Homo sapiens: one gene and its partner. The protein of the gene in region 2 purifies or fractionates together with the protein of the main gene of each other region. This does not show direct contact. Each region holds a gene or a part of one and is shown on either strand. Other genes may lie near its edges.

The links.
Region 1: the proteins of ZMYM4 (region 2) and HACL2 purify together in Homo sapiens (affinity purification with mass spectrometry; 2 studies listed by BioGRID and IntAct, with this or other methods). This does not show direct contact.

What each region holds. Positions count from the first base shown.
Region 1 is NC_000019.10:15,115,542-15,122,817, forward strand, and holds part of HACL2 (2-hydroxyacyl-CoA lyase 2), read right to left. Parts: intron 7,264-7,276; coding exon 7,152-7,263; intron 4,541-7,151; coding exon 4,441-4,540; intron 3,975-4,440; coding exon 3,877-3,974; intron 3,762-3,876; coding exon 3,625-3,761; intron 2,475-3,624; coding exon 2,340-2,474; intron 982-2,339; coding exon 867-981; intron 781-866; coding exon 611-780; intron 531-610; coding exon 460-530; intron 381-459; coding exon 309-380; intron 131-308; coding exon 25-130; intron 1-24. UniProt on the Homo sapiens protein: Endoplasmic reticulum 2-OH acyl-CoA lyase involved in the cleavage (C1 removal) reaction in the fatty acid alpha-oxydation in a thiamine pyrophosphate (TPP)-dependent manner. Involved in the phytosphingosine degradation pathway.
Region 2 is NC_000001.11:35,264,523-35,271,725, forward strand, and holds the start of ZMYM4 (zinc finger MYM-type protein 4), read left to right. Parts: upstream 1-4,186; 5' UTR 4,187-4,524; coding exon 4,525-4,563; coding exon of another isoform or gene 4,564-4,572; intron 4,573-7,203. UniProt on the Homo sapiens protein: Plays a role in the regulation of cell morphology and cytoskeletal organization.

The sequences.
Region 1 (7,276 bases), on a different chromosome or scaffold from region 2:
CCAACCTCGCTGAGGCCCCCTCACCAGTGTAGGCCAGGCCACAGGCCACGTTGCTGCCCAGAGAGGGCACCTGCTCCCGAGAAATCTGTGTCCAGCCAGCATCATTCCCTACCAAGGCCATCACTGGGATCTACAGGAAGATGATGAAGGCAGGCCGCAGCCTTCAGCCCCATGGCTTGGCCAGCCAGAGGACAGAGACAGGGATAGGGCCTCTGCCAGAGAGGAGGCTCCCTCCCCACCTCAGCCCACCCCTGGTGACATCTCCCAGAACCCCAGGCCCTAAGCTTCCCTCAGGCCAGCCCAGTCACCTTGTGTCTGACGAATGTATCAAATTCGATGAGGCTGTAGCCAAAAGCTCCGTCCCCAAACAGGCACCAGACCTAGTCGGGAGGGGACCCAGGATGGTTAGGGTGGATCAGGACCTAGAGAGCAGCAAGTCTCCCAACTCCAGTGCCTCACCTCAGCATCTGGCCGGCACAGCTTGGCCCCAAGTGCAAATCCTGCACCAACTCCCAGAGTCCCAAAGGCCCCTAAGAGGACCAAGAGCAGGTGGGTGTGAAGGCGTCCTGATGGATGGTGCCCACTGCCCCAGGCGGGGGCCCTTCCTTACCAGGATCGAGCCAGCGCAGGGGGCCGCGGGGCTGTACCAGATGGGCAGCAGTGCCCACGAAGTCCCCGCCATCCACCACCAGAATTGAGTTGTCAGGTAGCGTTTCCTCCACCAGCTGCAGCACCTGCACTGGGTTCAGGTGCTGGGCCACAGGCATCGCTGCCTTCTCCCTGCGACAGGACAGCGAAGGTCACCAGGGTTGGCAGCAGGGTCTGCCGGGAACCCCCTTCCCACATCCACTCCACCCAGGCCCCACCGAAAGGTCTGCTCCTTCTGCCGGTCGGCTTCCCGCAGCTCCTCCACCCAGTCTGGGGCCCAGGTCTGGCCCTGAAGGCCCTCCACTAACTTCAGCACGAAGGAACCCACATCTCCTGGGGAAGGAAGAGGACACAGCTGTGGGGAGCTGGCTTCCTCCTGTTCTTCCAGCATCAGAGGCCTCAAAACAGCAGGAAGCCAGCAGCAGCATCCGAGCAGGCAGACGGGAAGCAGGCCAGGGGTGCTCCTAGAAAAAAAACAGGTGAAACACCCCAGAACCTGCCAGAACCAGGGGAGGGCAGCCCAGGTGAAAAGGGAAGACAAGGCCCAAGAAACAAGGGTTAAGGAGCACAAGGCAGGTGACAAACCCAAGCTGGCCTCGTCCCCTCCCTCCACCTCCTTCTGCCTGGGAAACACTCAATGAAAAGAGCTACATCCACCAAGCACATCTCTCAAATCCAGGCACGTGGAAGCGCACAGCGAACGTTACTGAAGTGAACTAACAAACAGCCCCGTGATGTATCTTTCACCACCCCATTTTTCAAATGATCAAATGGAGGCTCTGAGAAGGTGAGGCTCTGCCGCTGTTCATCTCCAGTTCAGGCCTCCTCGCTTCTGTCCTGGCCATTTTGAGCAGCCCCCCTGGCCTCCACCCAGCCCCCTTCCGGCCTGCCGTCCATGGCTGCTGAGTGGACCTTCCCAACACAGATGCAACGGTGCTACTTCTCTGCTTAATACAAGAGTGTCCTGTCGCCTAGGCTGCAGGGGAGTCAACATCCTCAGAATGATGAACCAAGTTCAAGTCCAAGGGGACTAAAATAAGGGGAGGGGAGAGATACGGCAGGAAGACAGGCTAAGGGGCCAACGAGTGTGCTCTCTGTCCTGAGGGCAGTGGGCAGTGTGGGAGGGAACGTGATCACATGCACGTTTTCAAGCCTCCCTCTGTGTCCACCCCACCATTTGTTCCTACAGAAGCATCTATCAGGCCGGGCGCAGTAGCTCTGGTCTGTAATCCCAGCACTTTTGAGAGGCCGAGGCAGGAGGATCACTTGAGGCCAGGAGTTCCACGCCAACCTGGGCAACACAGTGAGATGCTGATTCCACAAAAAAAAATTAACAAATTAGCCTGGCATGGTGGTGCATACTTGTAGTCCCAGCTACTCAGGAGGCTGAGGTGGGAGGATTGCTTTTGAGCCTGGGAGTTTGAGGGTGCAGTGAGCTGTGATTGCACTACTGCATTCCAGCCTGGGTGACAGAGCGAGACCTCGTCTCTAAAAAATAAAAATAAAAAAAATTTAAAGAAAGAAGCATTCATCAGTTTGAGAGCCAACTATTTGTCTCTGGTTGACTGGCTACCCCTAGGGCAAGGTCTGGGCCTCAATCACTGTACCAGGCTCAAGCCAGCTGCAGCAGAAACCAGGAGGAGAGGGACTGGGAGGAGCACATATGTGTACGGGGGGATTAAGGGGCTCACCCTGCACAGCCTCCTGGGGCTTCCAGAAGATGTCTGAGTTGAGCAACATCTCTTCCCGATTACGATTGACGATGATGATCTTGCTGCTGTGGCTGAGGACACGGCCATAGGATAGGCGGAAGTCACACACAGTTCCTGGTGTGGGGGACAGGAATGCAGTAGGCAGAGGCCCCATGTCGTCTACCTTACTTGATCCACTGTGGTGGACTGGATGCAAATGAGTCCCTGTTCCTCACCGAGTCTCCCTGCACCTGTGCCACCTACAGTGACCTTGCAGCTCCCCACACCCCCTGAATCGGGACTGGCCTCATGACATGCTTTGGCCAACAGGATAGGGCAGAGGCAGGTTATATTTTCCCAGATGGCCATAATATCTCCCACCCTACATCCATTTGTACAAGGTCACCTTGACATGCCTCCCATGGAGAGAGGTGCAGCCTAGGTCCCCTTTCCTTGAAAGTGACACACCATGACACCCAACAAGGAAGATATGCAGTTTCTTCCTTGTTCACTTTTAGAGGCCTGGGTGGGGCCAAGGAATGTGCTCTCTGTCTAAGAAGTCTGACTACCCTGAGGCCATCATGCTGGGAGGAAACCGGAGCCACACATAGAGACCTGTGTAGTTGCCCTAGTCCACAGCCCCTCCAACAGCTGGCGTCAATTGCAAGACCTCTGAGTGAAGACACCTCCAGATGATTCAGGACCCCCACCCCCCATTCCTGCAGACTCTACTTCAAGAAGCCACACAGCCTCCACTCACTCTCTTGAATAACCGCACTCTCCTAGCCCCATAGTTTTCTCATCCTTCACCAAGTCGGCCAGCCCAGGCTAGCCTACTGGAGGATGAGAAACAAGGGGGCCATGGAGACAGGGGTGAAGAACTCTATGACCCCAGCTGAGGCCATCCCAGACGAGCTGCAGGGCCAGCCAATCCCCATACAGGTGAGCAAGCCCAGCCTGGATCAGCACAGCTGCCTTCCTGCCTAACCCAAGTGCAGACTCATGAATGAGCCCAGCCAAAACCACAGCTACCACCTACCTTATAGGTGGATCTTGAGAAATCAGAAATGCATTTTTAGCCATTGAGTTTGGGGATGGTTGTTACAGGGCAGTAGCTATCTGATACACCTATTATGCGTCTGGTTGGGTTCAAAGCGCTTTATGTGAAAATGTGTATCAAGTACAATAGGTGCCCACTAGACCTTCCTCCTCCTTCGTGTGAAGCTGGGTAACAGGGTGAGGGGGTTCCTGGGGGAAGGAGGGAAAGGAAGAGGCTCAGGCCCACCTGCTAGGACAATGACATCCGCCTTCTTCAGGGCCGCACTGCGGTTCTCCCGGATGTGGAGGGGGTGGTTGCGGCCTAACAGCCCCCGTGCCATCCCTCCAAGGAAGCAGGGAACACCCAAGGTCTCCACGGCAGCCCTGGGAGTCCAGGCAGAGCAGAGGTCAGTGTGGCCGGGGCCTCCCGCCTCCCCAAGAGCACCCGAGGACTGGGGACTGGGAACGTGAAAACAAGGGCAGGGCTGGCGCTTCTCACCGAAGCTTGTCGGCAGACGTTGGGGTGAGCAGGGCCTGACTCCCCAGCACCATCAGAGGCCTCTTGGCCCGGCTCAGGATCTCCACACAGCGCTGAACCTGGAGCGAGAGGTGGGGATCAAAGGGCTGTCTTTTTATTTATTTATTTTTTTGAGACACAGTTTCACTCTGTTGCCCAGGATAGAGTGTAATGGCATGATCTCAGCTCACTGCAGCCTCCACCTCCCAGGTTCAAACGATTCTCCCGCCTCAGCCTCCAGAGTAGCTGGGATTACAGGCGCGTGCCACCATGCCTGGCTAACTTTTGTATTTTCAGTAGAGACAGGGTTTCACCATGTTGGCCAGGCTAGTCTTGAACTCCTGGCCTCAAGTGATCCGCCTGCCTCGGCCTCCCTAAGTGTTGGGATTGCTGCTGTGAGCCACCGCGTCCAGCCAAAGGGCCGCCCTTGAGTCGCCATGAGCACCCAAGATTAAGGCCCCAGTACTGACTCAGGGAGAGGGTCAGGGGGCCCTCTCCCCTCAGGGAGAGGGTAGGGTCCTCAGACACAAAAGAGAGGCAATTCACCTGCTGCGGGGAAGCCTGGGGGATGTCCAGGGGCAGCGGTCCCTCGGGCTGAGGCTCCCAGGCTCCTGCAAAGAGGTTGGCCAGGTAATTCTCTAAATACCTGCAAAAGGGAGGGGGAAGAAACCAAGTTGCCAGAATTAACTAACTACAAGGATTCCAGGATCTGAGCAAGGAAAGGGGCCGGGAGAAAAGCCAGGAGCAAAGTGGCATGGGGACAGGGTGGATGAGTGACACCTCAGGGACAGACGAACCCTAGTGGCCAGGTCTTCAACTGCCTGTTTGCCCTCGGTAGCCTCTGGGGTCCACCCCAACTCCACGTAGCCCCCCAGAAGCAAGGAACGCAGGCTCAGCATGCCAGGATTAAGCCTGTGGGTCCAACAGATGTGAGCTCAAGTCCTGGCTCTGTCACTTCCTAGCTGTGCAACTTAGGGCAAGTGACTTCACCCTTCTGAGCTTCCACCTCTGTCAATGTAAATATGAACCTCCCTCCCCAGGTTCAAGGATCTGTCCACTTAGGACATGAGGCGCTTTGCATGGGAGTTCTGAACACTGTCCTCTCCTGCTTCAAACAGGGTCTTCTCGGTCTCCTTGCTCACTGGGCCCCAGGGCCCCAACTTTCCTGAAGGACCTGTGCAGGGCCCTGGAGACACAAAGATAGATCCTGCCCAGCCCTCCCCTCAGGGGGCGCTCTATCCAGCGAAAGACAGACACATGGGCATTGGCAGGAAACAGTCGGAGCTCAGAGTCAGAAGCCTCTGCTTTCACCGTTAAGGACAGGCCAAGACAGCACAGAAGCAGCCCAGGATGGAACCGTGGGAAGCCCCGCAAGTAAAGAAAAGGCAAGGGAGGCTGAGGCAGGAGGATTGCTCGAGGCCAGGAGTTCAAGGCTGTGGTGAGCTATGATCATACCACTGCACTCCAGCCTGGGTGATAGAGTGAGGCCCTGTCTCAAAACAAAACAAAACAAAAAAGGCAAGATAAGAGATAGCCTTGTGAGAGGCAGCCCAAGAGAGAGGGGCAAGGAGAACAAGGGGAGGGACTGACTGGGAAGCCAGGGGGCAAAGTGCATTAAGAATGAGGCTATATGACCAAAATGGTGAAACCTCATCTCTACTAAAAATACAAAAATTAGCTGGGTATGGTGGACTGCACCTGTATTCCCAGCTACTCCGGGGGCTGAGGCAGGAGAATCACTTGAACCCGGGAGGTGGAGGTTGCAGTGAGCCAAGATCGCACTACTGCGCTCCAACCTGGGGGACAAAGCGAGACTCCGTCTCAAAAAAAATAAAGAGGCCATAGAACAAAATCACTACTGCCTGAGCTGACCCTCAGGCGCTTCACACACATCCGGAGTACAGGAGCCTGACTACCTTGTCCACTGATGATGCCCCGTGCCTGTCCTGGAACCTGGCACATGGCTGCCGCTCGCTAAATGTATGGAAAGGAAGGGCCAAGGACAGGCAAAGGGAAGGGACTGAGGGGAAGGGAGAGAAGGAGGAAGAAGAGGAAGAGGAGGAGGAGAAGAAAGGAAAGGAAGAAGAAGAAGAGAAGAGGCCAGGCGCAGTGGCTCATGTCTGTAATGTTTGAGAGGCCGAGGAGGGTGGATCACTTGAGGTTAAGAGTTCAAGACCAGCCTGGCCAACATGATGAAACCTCGTCTCTACTAAAAATACAAGTATTAGCCAGGTGTGGTGGCGGGCGCCTGTAGTCCCAGCTACTCAGAAGGCTGAGGCAGGAAAATCACTTGAACCCAGGGGGAGGCGGAGGTTGCAGTGAGCCGAGATCACGCCACTGCACTCAAGCCTAGGCAACAGAACGAAGAATCTGTTTCAAAAAAAAAAAAAAAGAAAGAAAAGGACAAAGATGTGAGGGAAGGAAAGGAGGAGGAAGGAGAGGGCTCGAGTCTGGGCTCTGCCACTTTTTTTTTTTTTTTTGAGACGGAGTCTTGCTCTGTCACCCAGGCTGGAGTGCAGTAGCACGATCTTGGCTCACTGCAAGCTCCACCTCCTGGGTTCACGCCATTCTCCTGCCGCAGCCTCCCAAGTAGCTGGGACTACAGGCGCCCGCCACCACGCCCGGCTAATTTTTTTTTTTTTTGTATTTTTAGTAGAGATGGGGTTTCACCATGTTAGCCAGGATGGTCTCGATCTCCTGACCTCGTGATCTGCCCACCTCGGCCTCCCAATGTGCTGGGATTACAAGTGAGAGCCACCGCACCCGGCCTGGGCTCTGCCACTTCTTAGCTGTGTGACTTTGGGCAAGTGACTTCACCTTTCTGAGCTTCCTCCTCTGTAAATGTAAGAATGAACCTCCCTTCCGAGGTTCAAGGATCATCCTTTAGGAGGAGGAAAACGGAGAGGACGATGGGAAAGGTGGTGGGGGAAAGGGAGGAGAAGAGGAAGGAAGAGGGAGGAGGAAGAGGAGGAAGAAGAGATGATGGAGGAGGAGAAGAAAGGGAAAAGGAGGAGGAGGAGGGCTGTCCTGAGCCTCTCCCCTTTGCTGCCTCCACGAGGGCCGCCTTGCTTTCCCTACCCACCCAGTTCATTCCTGCCTCAGGACCTTTGCACATGCTGTTCCTTCTACCTGGAATGCTCTCCCCCCAGCTGTCTCCTCCCAGTCCACATGTGAATCAAAGGAGGATGGGTGTGGGCTGGAAGCTGCAGGAGAGAACGGGGGATAAAGGAGGGAATGGCAGGGGTGGGGCTATTCACCAGGAGACCACTCGGCCCACGAGGCCCTTGGGTGGCTTGGCTGGCACCATCTCCTTCTGGACCATGAAGTAGGGGTACAGCACGTCAACGGGCAGCTCCACAAACACCGGACCTGCAGGGACAGG
Region 2 (7,203 bases):
TGGCCAGGCTGGTCTGGAACTCCCGACTTCAAGTGATCCACCTGCCTCGGCTCCCAAAGTGCGGGGATTACAGGCATGACCCACCGTGCCCAGCCAAAACCCTGCCTCCAAAAGAAAAGAAAAAGAAAAACAAAGTCACCTCCTCGGAAAATATTCACTGACTAACATATCTAAAGTAGCCCCACTACAGTTATTTTTTATCCCACTTGTTTTACTTTCTTCCTAACATTTTCTGAATGGATCTACCTAAATGTCCAATGTAGTTTAAAACATATTTGAATCTAATGGTTAGAATTCTGTTAGTTAATAATTTCTTTTGGAAAGAAACACTGTATCTTTCCTGTGGCTGCCCTCTCCCTCTGAGTGAGTATCTAAAATAACGTCTGCATTTATGAGGCATTATGACTTTGGGGAAGCCTGAGACCTTGAATCTATTCGGAGTCCCTGACCTCTCAGGATGCTCTACAGCCTGTTGTTAAGAGAGTGGAATGTTTTGTAGCCTGGCCTCGCTAAGTTTGCTCAGAGCCTGAAGGCAAACCACACAGCTCTTCCTGAGGTCTGGCTGTTACTACTTTTTGTTCCTGGCCCAGTGTAATTTACAGAGCTACTTCCTCCTATACTTGCCAGCCAGCATTCTTGGCTACTTTCCGTATTCTTCTACAGGGTATGTGGGAACTTCTGGATATCTTCTCTCGCAGGAGCTAAGGACCACTCACTTGCAGAGCTCCGCCCAAAACCCTGTACCTAATTTTGTGTATGTAATTCTGTGTTCTTTTTCTTAAAAACAAAACAAAACAAACAAACAAAAAAACCCTCCCTCTCCCCCCATCATGTAAGCTTCAAGATCTGTAAAACCTGGATTCATCTCTGGCTGAGAGACACTCTGAGGAGCTAAATGCAGACCTGCTCTTTTTTCCCAACTACATCAGGGCATGACTTTTGCTCATATGTGGCTGTCTGCTTGTTGGTATGGGCATAGTCTGCAAGTCATCTCTACTTGGAATCTTAAACAGGAGCAGAGTAAGAATCCTCTCTGCCTTGAAGAGCTGGAATGGGAAGACAGGAGCACATGTCTCTCAATGATGCCTCTCTTACTTTTCTCTTTGTTCTTCTTCTCTCTACCCTTTTATTAAAAGAGTCAGACTTTTCTTTTATTTCCCTATATGCAGCCTCATGGCTTAGCTGTCCTGGATGGAAGGATATTTGGGTGGAAGGCATTTCCTGTGGAGTATGTAAAAACTCTATGAAATTATTATGTGCTGAGCTTCATAGATTAAATGGAACTAAGAAAATTTAGCAAATTCTTTTTCTCTCCATTCTGTTCTCTCCTGATTGGGAAAATAAGTCTCAAGGCTACATTTCAAGCAAGAGTCTATGACAGAAGATGACTTAAGAAAGTTAAAAGAAATCTGTTTGATATTTGCAAGATACTAGCCCCATTATAGTCTAGTTTTTTTTTTTTTTTTTTTTTGAAACAAGTCAGAGCACTGAACTTGTAGGTGAAATATCCCATTTAAAATGTTGATATATGATTTAACTTTTTTTTTTTAAAAAAAAGATAATGGCCGGGCGCGGTGGCTCACGCCTGTAATCCCAGCACTTTGGGAGGCCGAGGCAGGCGGATCACAAGGTCAGGGGATCAAGACCCTCCTGGCTAACACAGTGAAACCCAGTCTGTACTAAAAATACAAAAAGTTAGCCGGGCATGGTGGCGGGTGCCTGTAGTTCCAGCTACTCGGGAGGCTGAGGCAGAAGAATGGTGTGAACCCGGGAGGCGGAGCTTGCAGTGAGCCCAGATCGCGCCACTGCACTCTAGCTCGATGACAGAGTGAGACTCTGTCTCAAAAAATAATAATAATAATAATAATGATACTCATATGGTATTAGGAACCAACAGTGTTCTAGGAGATTTAGAGATGTTAACTAATTTAATCCTCTTGGTGTCCCATTTTACAGATAAGGAAAGTGAGGCACAGGACAATTACCTTGACCAAGATCATATAGCTATACACAATACAAATCAAATGCATTTCTGTGGGACAGATTTGGTCACAAGGCCACCAATTTACAATGTCTACTTTACGATATTTCAAATAAGTCAGAAAGAACAAGGCTTTGAATTCTGACTTGGCCTCTGTGCTGAATGATCTTGGACTAGTCACTTAAGCTCTGTGAATCCTTCTATAAAATTATGATTAACTTTTCAGTGCTCACTAAATGGTTTTCTCTTGTCTTATTCCTCCATATGGATGACTGCCCTGAACATTCATGTTATGCTTGTATATTATCTGAAATGCACAAATCCCACCTATTATTCGAGACCTAACACATTGCTAATACCTCCAGAAACAGTCTGTGTAGGACAGAGCCCTGAGGATCAAGATGTCTGTTTCAGTCTTGATACTGTTACTAATCCTGTGTGTGATCTCAAGCAAATCATATCTTCTCTAAGCCTCAGAGGCTTCATCTTGAAAATGTGGAGTTAGACTAAACTAATAAGTTTAAACTGTGATCTGAGAAACTCAACATTTCTGTAATGATGGGAGGGGGCATGAAAGGAGAGAGAGTGCAAGGGTGAAGCTGGGTGAATAGACTAGTGGGTTCCCCACTTACACTCCCAACTTAGCAGCTCCACATTTTAAACCACCAGATTTTATTAGAAGGGAGTATTCCACTGCCAATAAAACAGGTGGAAACCACTACAAGTTTTATGTAGCCACATTCCCTGGAATTATCTTTTCTTGGCTCCTCTTTTCTTTCTTGTCCTGGACATGGAACTAAAGGGAACATGTTTTTAAAATTCTGGCTGAAATGAACATATTTCTTTGTCCTTCTTTCTTCTCTCCTACCGAGGAGTGAAATTAAAGACAGTGCTAAAGGCATAAGCAAGGCCAGTATGGAAACTTCCAGCAATTTCACCAAAAGTTTTCAGCAAAATATTACAGATTAGAAAACATCTGTTTCAGAATAGCTACCAAGTGCTAAATAAAACAGAAAACAGAAGTTACATCTCATTATCCTGTGACTTCAGGAGTTATCATTCCCACTTGAATATGTCTTGTCATGGGAAATGACCTTCAGGAGGCATCTTCTTTGTATTTCTTACTATATGTCTCCCCACTGTCCCTGAACTATCATTATAAACTTAATTTTTTCTGCACCCAAAGCTTGTGGGAACTAGAATGAACAGAAGAGGAATGAATGAAGCCCTCATTCTTTTCAGCGATTTTCAGCTTAGGACCCAGTTTTGGAACAAGATAGACCCAAATCTACTTCCTGGTTTCCTGCTTAGAAATAAGATGCTTATCCTTTAAGGCAGATTGTCAAGCTCCTTCAATAGAGGTGAATGAGGACACCCATCATCTGCAAATCATTACATCTTCACAAGAGAATTATGATATTCTCCAAATACCATGAAACTTCAATTTTTAATCTTCTAGGGATATCAAATTAAACCAAATTTATCTCTCGCCTGAAGACAGCCTGGAGGACTGAGACTGTAATCTTGATTCCAACTCCACACCAGCCATTAGTTACATTGGGACAAATTCCTTCCCATGATCAGGCTGCAATTTTATCATTGGGAGCACTGGAGTAAATGGTTCCCTAAGATCCTTCTCCATTTTGATGTTCTAAGGATAAATTACTATTGAAGAAATTATTTCCAGTTGTTGGTTCAATCTTCAAAATCACCAAAAGCTTTGATTTTAAGGTGAGGTTATAGGAGTTGGCTCTTGATATTCTATGCCTTGTGCTTCAGAACAGGCAGTCGAAAGGGAGGAAAGTTGGTTTTCCTTGAGATGACTGTCTTGTTCCCTCATTGGTTTGGGATTCTTCATGTTCAGAGGTCCACTGAGAACTTCAGCTTACCATGACTTTCCCTCTTCAATGGTACCACTGTAGTCAGGTGTAAGATGGTGATGTGGAACCCTTCACTGACATTGCACCCAATTCTCCAGATTGTCTTTCCAGTAATTTCTTTCATTTCTCCTTCATCCCTGCGTCATGGTCCCTTTAAGGGAGCGGCCATAGTTGAGTGGTGGGAGCAGCTGCTGGCAGCAAAGAGACTTGCAGGATTTGGCCTACCCATGGCCACTTACCGCGCACGCTCAGGACCGGGGGCTTGGTGGGAAAGGAAGGAGGGACTTAGGGTGCGCCTGCGCATCAGGGGCGCGCGCAAGGGGCTGATTTGGTGATCCCTTTAAGAAACCGCAGGCGGAGGAATTTCTCTGAGAGAAAATAATCCTACTCACGGGGCCCCTTGGAGGCCATTAACCCCCCGAGTCCCGGCCCCCACCCCGTCCCCGGGCAGGCCCTCCCGCCCACGCGCGGACCCGTGGGATCTCAGAAGCTGCGGCCCGGCGCGCGGCATCCGCCCCCTCCCCACTCTCGGCGCAAGGCCCGGCCGGGTCCGGGGAAGCTGCCGCGAGGCGGCCGTGCCTGCAGTGTGGGCGGGGGCCGGGGGGCCGAGAGGTACCGCCGCCACCGCGCGGGGAGCCGCAGCGGTTCCGAGCGGGGCCCAACATGGCGGAGAGAGAGGTGGAGTCCGGCCCCCGAAAGAGGGTAGGTGAGGTGAGGCAGAACTCGGGCGGCGGGGGGCGGGGCGCGGCCCGGGGCCGGGAATGGGCCATACTCAGGTTCGTGGAGGGGTCGCCGAGGCCCAGTTAGGACAAGGTTGCGGGCAGGTCTGAGGCAGCCTTGGGTCCGGAGCGCGCTGGCGAGCGGTCCCTCGGCAGGTGGGACAAAGATTTGGTGCTGGGTGGGGGGGAGGGGAGGGGGCCGTTGTTTGCCTTCCTCCCCCCGACGTTCCCCAGCACTGGGGTGGGATATCTAGGCCCAGGGAGGGGAGGTGTCAGATTCTTAAGTGCATCTTTAGTGCATCTTTAGTACATCAGAGTCTGGAAGTTAACTGGGGAGAGGTCAGGTGGGGGTGGTGGTGGCGGGAATAAGTCGTGGAGGGGTCTCAGGAGAAATAACCGGAGGGTTCTTCAGTAACACCATCGCGAATTCATTTTCCTGCCTCCTTTCCCCTCCCCCCATAGCCGTTATCTAGACCAAAGTCGGGGTGGTGGTCTTACCTGTGAAGAAGTGGGATCGTTGGCATGTCCTGATTTAGGAGAAAGATTTTGGCTACTATGAATGTCATGTTCTAGCCTAGCCTCTTACTCGCAATTAGGGACTTGGAAGAATACGACAAGTTTTCTCATAACAGGGATGTACCCAATCAACCTGCAGAGGTGAAGCCAATTCTACATAGGAGTTGTTTGAATACCTTTTAAAGTTTGTCTGGAAACTTTCCTTATTTAATTCTGAGTGGTTTTTTTCAGATGGCGAACAATACTGTACTATCGATTGAGCAATATCCCTCACTTTTCTTTTACTTCCTCCCCGCTTAGCATGATAAGAAGTAAGTTTCCTTTTAGGAGTCTTCCTTTTGGGAATGGTTTCAGAAACGATCAATTAGCAAAAGGGCAAAAAATTACTACTTTATGAAGAATGCCCTTTCAGCTTAGCGTAAAATTAGTAATCTCGTAATGATGCTACAGCTGATGTTTTGAGTGCTTACTGTGTGCCTGGCACTGAGCTAAGACCTTTATGTGAAGAATTTAACTTCATAGTAACTCCTCCTAGAACCTATTTGCAGATGAGGAAATTTAGGTGTTGAGGGCTTAAGTAATTTACTTAGATCACACAGCTAGTTGCAAGGTTGAGGTAGGATTTGAATCCAGGTTTGTCCCAACTATAGTGCCTGTGTGGGATGCCACAGAGGAGTTTCTTTAATCTGTGTTTCTCTCCTTAAAAGCTTAAATTGTAAATGACCAAAGAAGTGTCAAGTATTATTTTTTCCAACAATTTATTAGGAAAATATTTTGAACTATCCGTCAATATTATAAAACTTACGGGGAGCAGTCATACACCCAACCGCCTAGATCCTACTGTTAACATTGCATTCCGGACATGCACAGCGGCTCACGCCTGTAATCCCAGCACTTTGGGAGGCCGAGGCGGCAGGATCACTTGAGGCCAGGAGTTCGAGACCAGCCTGGCCAACATGGTGAAACCCCGTCTCTACTAAAAATACAAAAAATTAACCCGGCGTGGTGGCGGGTGCCTGTAATCCCAGCTATTCGGGAGGCTGAGGCAGGGGAATCGCTTGAACCTGGGAGGCGGTGGTAGCAGGGAGGCGGTGGTAGCAGTGAGCCGAGATCGTGCTACTGCACTCTAGCCTAGGTGACAGAGGGAGGCACTGTCTCAAAACCCCCTCCAAAAAAAAAATTGCATTCCACTTGTTTTATCATATATTTACCCCTCTATCCCTCTTTCTGTTCATCAGTCGTGTTATTTTAATGCATTTCATCGTAGTGTTTTGAACAATAAATTTTTACCATTGATAAGTTTACGAAATGTTGGATTCACCTAATGCAATAATTAGTCATAGAGCAAGTTAAGCTGTATGATGGTATGTCCAAATAGTTTTGTAAGTATAAATGTTGTGTATGGAATGCATGTGTTTTGAAATTTTAAAATTTTCAAGTTGTGTTCAGTTTTGAACTAGATCCTTACTGTGCTTGGATGAAGGCATATGGCATATAGTCCACCAATGAAAATATACAGGGTAAATTACTTAAGATATGTAATGTTAATTCAGGGAGATTTCTGCATCCAGTTGCTGTGAATGTTGTCATTCACCTTCTGTACTAGGATGTTCTAGGATATTCTAGAAAACATTGATGTGTGTTGACAACAAATTCAACTAGATTTTAAATATATTCTGCCTCTTGTCGTACACTTAAAAGATGTTACTGGTCTTGTGAATCTTCTGCTAAAGGAATGCTGGAAAAAAAAAAAAAGATACCATACTGGTAGCAGTAAAAACTTTATTATTATTATTATTTTTGAGACAGAGTCTTGCTCTGTTGCCCAGGCTAGAGTGCGGTGGCGCAATCTCGGCTCGTTGCAACCTCCGCCTCCCGGGTTCAATTAATTCTCCTGCTTCAGCCTCCCAAGTAGCTGGGATTACAGGCAAGCACCACCATGCCTGGCTAATTTTTGTATTTTTAGTAAAGATGGGATTTTGCCATGTTGGCCAGGCTGATCTCGAACTCCTGACCTCTGGTGATCAGCACACCTCGGCTTCCCAAAGTGCTGGGATTACAGGTGTGAGCTACCGGGCCTGGCCCAAAAGTTAATTTTATTTTTAAC